Linked DNA regions of Homo sapiens: region 2 is linked to region 1. The links come from fine-mapping of genetic effects on gene expression. Tissue or cell type: whole blood. Region 1 holds a variant in brackets; the other region holds the start of a gene. All regions are shown on one strand. Distances are from middle to middle.

Region 1 (2,500 bases):
TCTGCCTTTGCTGAGGTTGACGTTGTACAGGGAGTCAATGTTCTCCCTGGCAAACTCGTCCAGCAGCTCCAGATGGCGGAGGACCGGACTCGGCCTGGGACGCAGGGCCCTGGAGTCAGAGTTGCCGGCCCGGGGCCTCACACTGGCCCCAGCATCCCAGTGTGTGCTGTCGGGACAGCAGTGCCTCCCCTACTCGGGACGCCCAGTGGGGTGAGCTGGACCCAGAGCTGGAGTTGGAGGCCGTGGCTGCCGGTGAGGTCGGCCCCGGAGCCCAGCCCGCTCGCAGCCCCTCCCACCTTCCCTCCTTCTGGAAAGCCTCGCCCACCCCCACCTCTCCTCCCAGGCTCCCGAGGGCCCTGGTGTCCCTCCAGGGGGCAGTGACCACACTGAGCCCCCTCCTTGGCAGTCCGAGAGGTCCGGGCTGGGCACCGAGGTTTGGGAGGTCACAGTGACCAGGAGGGTGGCATTGACCACACAGAGCCCCCTCCTCGGCTACAGGGGCCAGTGGGGCTTCGGTTAGAGACGGTCACAGGGGCAAGGAGCTGGGGCGGCCACCCCTCCCGCCGACAGCCCTGGCCCTCACCGACGTGGGTTCCCGTCACACAGGGTGACCAGCGGGAGCAGCTTGCGCTCCGAGTGCACAGAGACGGCCATGAGGACCGGGCGGTGCCAGTGACGCTCAAAGAGGAGCCCCAGCTGCCAGCAGAGCGCGACCAGGGCTCCCAGGGACAGCAGCCCCCAGGACGTCGTCTTGAGGCGGTTCCCGCGGGAGCAGACCAGGCGGATGGCGCCGTGGATGGTGGCATTGGTGCAGAAGAAGGTGAGCAGCTCCCGGAACGAGGCGGGCAGCTCCACCAGCCCCTCCTGGTGCCCCTCCTTGGGTGGTGGTGGTGGTGCTGATGGTGGCCCCGGCCTGGGGGGCGTCTGGGCTGCAGCCTGTGTGCAGAGTGGCCTCAGCAGGGCCCGGCCTGCACCCACTCAGGCCTCCCTACCCTGGGCCTGTCATGTCTGTCAGCCACCAGTGCCCCGCCCTACCTGCTCGGTCGCTCGGACAAGCCCCTCCCAGGGTGCTCTGACACTGCGCCCTTCTCCCCGGATACACCCGTCCCTGACACGTCTCAGTGTAGCCTTGGAGCTGAGTTTGAGTTTGGGCTGCTGGGGCAGCAGGACTCAGAGAACAGGGTGCTCAGGCCCTACCTGGCCCTGTTTGCAGGCAGCGTTGTGCTGAGTGGGTCTGTGCTGCCATCCCTTCAGGTGGCAGGGCCTCTGGGGAGCCACAGGCCCAGG[C/T]GATCTACCCAAAGGCAAGTACGGTAGCGTGTCCATGCGCCCCGCGTGGGGTCTGGGGCTCAGGGGAAGACTTGCCCTTCTTGCCCCTGATGGCTGCACCCACCCCAGCCCCCAGTGTGGCCTGCTGAGGACCGACTGTGCCAGGCCCATCCAGCCAAGTCCAGGAAGCGTCTGGCCTGGACACCGCTCGGCACTGTGGCTCGGGGTGGCCCCATTGAGCTGAGTACCGGGGCCAGCTGCGGAGACACAAGGGCCCCAGGAAGCCCAGCCACTGCCTGCCCAGTCCCGCGCTGGAGGCTCTGGAGTCCTGGGACAGGCCTAGCTCTGGTCTGCGAGGCTGTCCCGCTGCCCAAGCCTGCTCCGAGGTACTCTGGGGAGGTGCTAGAGCGAGCCAGAAGCTTCGGGGCCTGGGGACACCAGGTGGGGACGGCTCCCCTCGGGTGTGTGGGCCGCACAGGCCTCCAGGCAGCCTGGCCAGGAGCTCCACCACTGGGCACATGGCTCTGCTCACCCTGCGTCCCCAAGGCCATCTGAGCAGGGAGGCTAAGAGGCTCGGAAGGGTCTTTGTGACTCCAGTCCCCACTCCTCGTCTCCACCTGGCGCATAGACAGGGCAGCACCATCCCCCTAGTGGGGGCTGCCAGGCCAGCAGAAGCGGGAGCTGTGGATTGGGGTCTGGAGGGCCAGTCAGGGTCCCCAGGGCTTCTGAGTGAGGCAGGGCCTGGACCCCTGGTCAGAGAGGAGCCGGACCCCACCCTGCATGTGCGCGTGTGTGTGAGACAGGACTACACTGGCCTCTCCACCCTGTCTGGATCTGCGTCGTGCCATGTGGCCAACCCACGGGATGCACAGCGCCTGGACACGCAGTATCTGCAGTGTTCTCCCGGGGTCTGTCCAGCACACGCTATGCACCCCCAATGGTCCAGCACACACTGTGCACCCCCAGTGGTCCAGCACACGCTCGGCACCCCCCGTGGTCCAGCACACGCTCGGCACCCCCCGTGGTCCAGCACACGCTGTGCACCCCCCGTGGTCCAGCACACGCTCGGCACCCCCAGTGGTCCAGCACACACTATGTACCCGCAATGGGACACAGCCTTCTTCAGGATAAGGAGGCACTCAGGGATGACCTGCCCCATTGCCACCATGCAATCCTGTTCCTGATGGCACACGGGGCCAGGCATCGGAAAGAGACCCCCCAACCCAGCCCCTGG
Region 2 (2,604 bases), 54 kb after region 1:
GGGGATGCCCTCCCTTCTCTGGCAGCACTGCGAGGGCGGCGCGGACCAGTCGTACACGTAGGACAGGCGCAGCTGCACCTCGCGCTTGCACAGGCGGCCCTCGCGCGCCAGCGTCGCGTGCTTCTCCAGCATGTCCTCCAGGCTCTGCTTGTGCGTCACCAGGTACTGGTTGCTGCAGCCGCGGGACCGGTATTCGGTGTCGAAGCGCGGGTCGTGCTCCCGCTGGACGTCCACCGGCGCCAGCCAGGCGCCCAGAGACACGTCCTCGCTGTGCCAGGCGCGCAGGTAGTCGCGGCTGAGGCGCAGGTAGTGCACCAGGTCGGCCGAGAGCACGTAGCCGCCGCCCAGCGCGTAGGGCAGGTAGTAGTCGCAGAGTTGCCAGGCGGCCTCGCGCCAGCGCCCCCCCGGCTTGACGCGGCCGCGGCCCGAGAAGAAGCCCCAGTAGAGGCGGCGGCGGCGCGCGGGCTCGCGGGCGCGCAGCTCGGCCAGCAGCGCGTCCAGCCGCGCGAAGGAGTCGTCGTCCGCCTTGAGCACGAACTCGAAGGCCACGTGCTCGTCCAGCCAGGCCAGCATGGCCAGCACCTTGGCCGTGAGGTTTTCGTAGGCGTCGCGCAGCGCGGGCAGCAGCAGCAGGTCCCCGTGCCGCGCCTGCTCCCGCTCCAGGGCGCGCCGCTCCTCGGCGCCCAGGCCGGCCGTGCCCACGGCAAAGCGCGCCCACACGTCGCCCGGGGCCCCGCGCCGCGCAAGCCACGTGCTGCGGATCACGCTGCGGCGCTCGGCGGCGCGGGGCGCGCTGGCCACCAGCACTGCCAGGAAGGCGGCGGCGCGCGCGGGCGCGGGGGGAGGCGGGCTGCGGCCCGACATCGCCCTGGGGTCCCCGGGCTCGGCCGCGCAGCGCGCCAGGTAGAGCAGCGCCGCCCCGCACAGCGCCAGCGTGCCCAGGCCTAGCGCCGCCCGCCGCCGCCACGCCCGCCGCAGCAGCTTCATGGCGCCCGCGCCGGGCCGGCGGCCCAGGCCGGACTCGCGAGTGCGCAGGCGCCGCCGGCTCGGGGCGGTGCGCGTGCGCACGGCGCTCCTGGGAGCGCGCCGGGGCCTTCCGCAGACGCCGAGCCCCGGGGCGCTCGGAGGCCGGCGGCCAATCGGCGGCCGTCACGTGGCCTCGGGCACCCTTGTCATTGGTCAACCTCGGAGCGGCCCCGCGACCGCTTCCGCCCGGAGGAGAGATGGTGGCGCCGGCGTCCCCTCCGTGAGGTCGCGCCCGTTCGCACCGCCCCCGCCCGCAAGAAAGATGGCAGTGGCCTGATCCGGGCCCGTTGGCGGCGTCACTGACGCTTCGCTCCGGTCCTCGGATCCCGAGCGCGGGGAGGCAGACCGGTGAGTGAGGGGCCCGGGACGGCCGCTGCAGGCCGCGGGGCCAAGTGTACGCCGGCCGGACGGCGAGGGCGGGTCTGGAGGCCGCCGCCGCCTCCCGCCTTGGGCTGGGGCATCGTCCGTCCGCTCGGCCTTGAGCCCTGGCGAGACTCCGCCGCCACCGGGGCTCCCGGGGTTCCCGGGGGCAGGGACAGGCCGACGACGCTGGCCTCCCCGGCCGCCGGCACGTCTGGTCTCCTACTGGCCAAAACCTACGAATGCCACCGGGAAACGGAGGCCCAAGGGGTCTGGTTGGACTCGCGTTTATCGGCGAGGCGACCTTGGACAAGCTGCCCCGCTTCCCTGCGCCTGCGCTTCCGCTTCTGAACCGCGTGGACCCTCATCCCCAGTTAGTAGGATTTGGAGATGTGAAGTCGGCTGTGTGGAGCCCTTGATGTCTGGCTCAGAGGCGGTGTTATGAACCCTGTTGAGCTTTTAGAATCTAACCGTGTGTGTTGTTAACTGCCAGAAATAGCCTCGTTCCACCAGAGCTGAAGCCCAGGGATGGCAAAGAAATAGCGTCTCTGCCTAAGCTGTTTCCCACGTCCGTTTTGCAAGGGTGTGTTGATTCCTTGCTGGGAACTGAGCTGCTAGGGGATGGCGAAGTCGAAACCCCATTCCGGTGGGACCGGCCCGCTCCGCTGTGCTGCGAACCTGGCACACCGTGATGAATAGATACTCTGAAGCCAGGAGAGGAAGCGCCACTTGATGGACTCCTGATATTTATAGTTACTTTTGGGTTACTTTTTATTCCCCCTTTTTCGAGACAGGGTCTTATCTTTTTGTTTTTGTTTTTTAAAGAGACGCAGTCTCACTGTGTTGCCCAGGCTGGTCTCACGATCCTCCTGCCTCAAGTAAACCGTGTAACTCATCAAGATATGTAGAATCAAGAACTAGCTTTATTTTCTCTAGGAACAAAGTACAGTCTCTTTGCACACAGCGTGTGTTTTACGACTGTAGTTAGTGGAGTCAGCACCAGGAGGAGGTGTCTTGGTTCTTATCCAGGACTCTCCCCTGGTCAGGCGATCTGGGACGACAGGAATAGAATTATGCCACCACTAGGGAAGGGAAAAGCCCTCAGCCATGTTCAGAAAATCAGGCCGGGTGCATGGCTCACGCCTATAGTCCCAGCACTTTGGGAGGCCGAGGCAGGAGGATCACTTCAGGTCAGGAGTTAGAGACCAGCCTGGCCAA

The links. PIP is the estimated chance that this variant, and not a neighbour inherited with it, causes the effect.
Region 2: B3GALT6 starts here. The variant in region 1 is fine-mapped to the expression of B3GALT6 in whole blood (TOPMed, PIP above 0.99).

The regions. Positions count from the first base shown.
Region 1 is chr1:1,284,362-1,286,861 of GRCh38, reverse strand. It overlaps SCNN1D (sodium channel epithelial 1 subunit delta), which reads right to left. Exons shown (of 18, transcript NM_001130413.4): 6 at 1,198-1,291; 7 at 584-936; 8 at 1-94. Among named protein-coding and RNA genes, the nearest start is that of SCNN1D, 5.2 kb to the right of the region's middle. The variant C/T (reference allele first, on the strand shown) is at 1,288.
Region 2 is chr1:1,230,662-1,233,265 of GRCh38, reverse strand. B3GALT6 (beta-1,3-galactosyltransferase 6) reads right to left here and starts at 1,029. Exons shown (of 1, transcript NM_080605.4): 1 at 1-1,029. The coding sequence starts at 987. It overlaps SDF4 (stromal cell derived factor 4), which reads left to right and starts at 1,265. Exons shown (of 7, transcript NM_016176.6): 1 at 1,265-1,374. RefSeq lists enhancers at 1-629, 630-1,311 and a silencer at 928-1,787.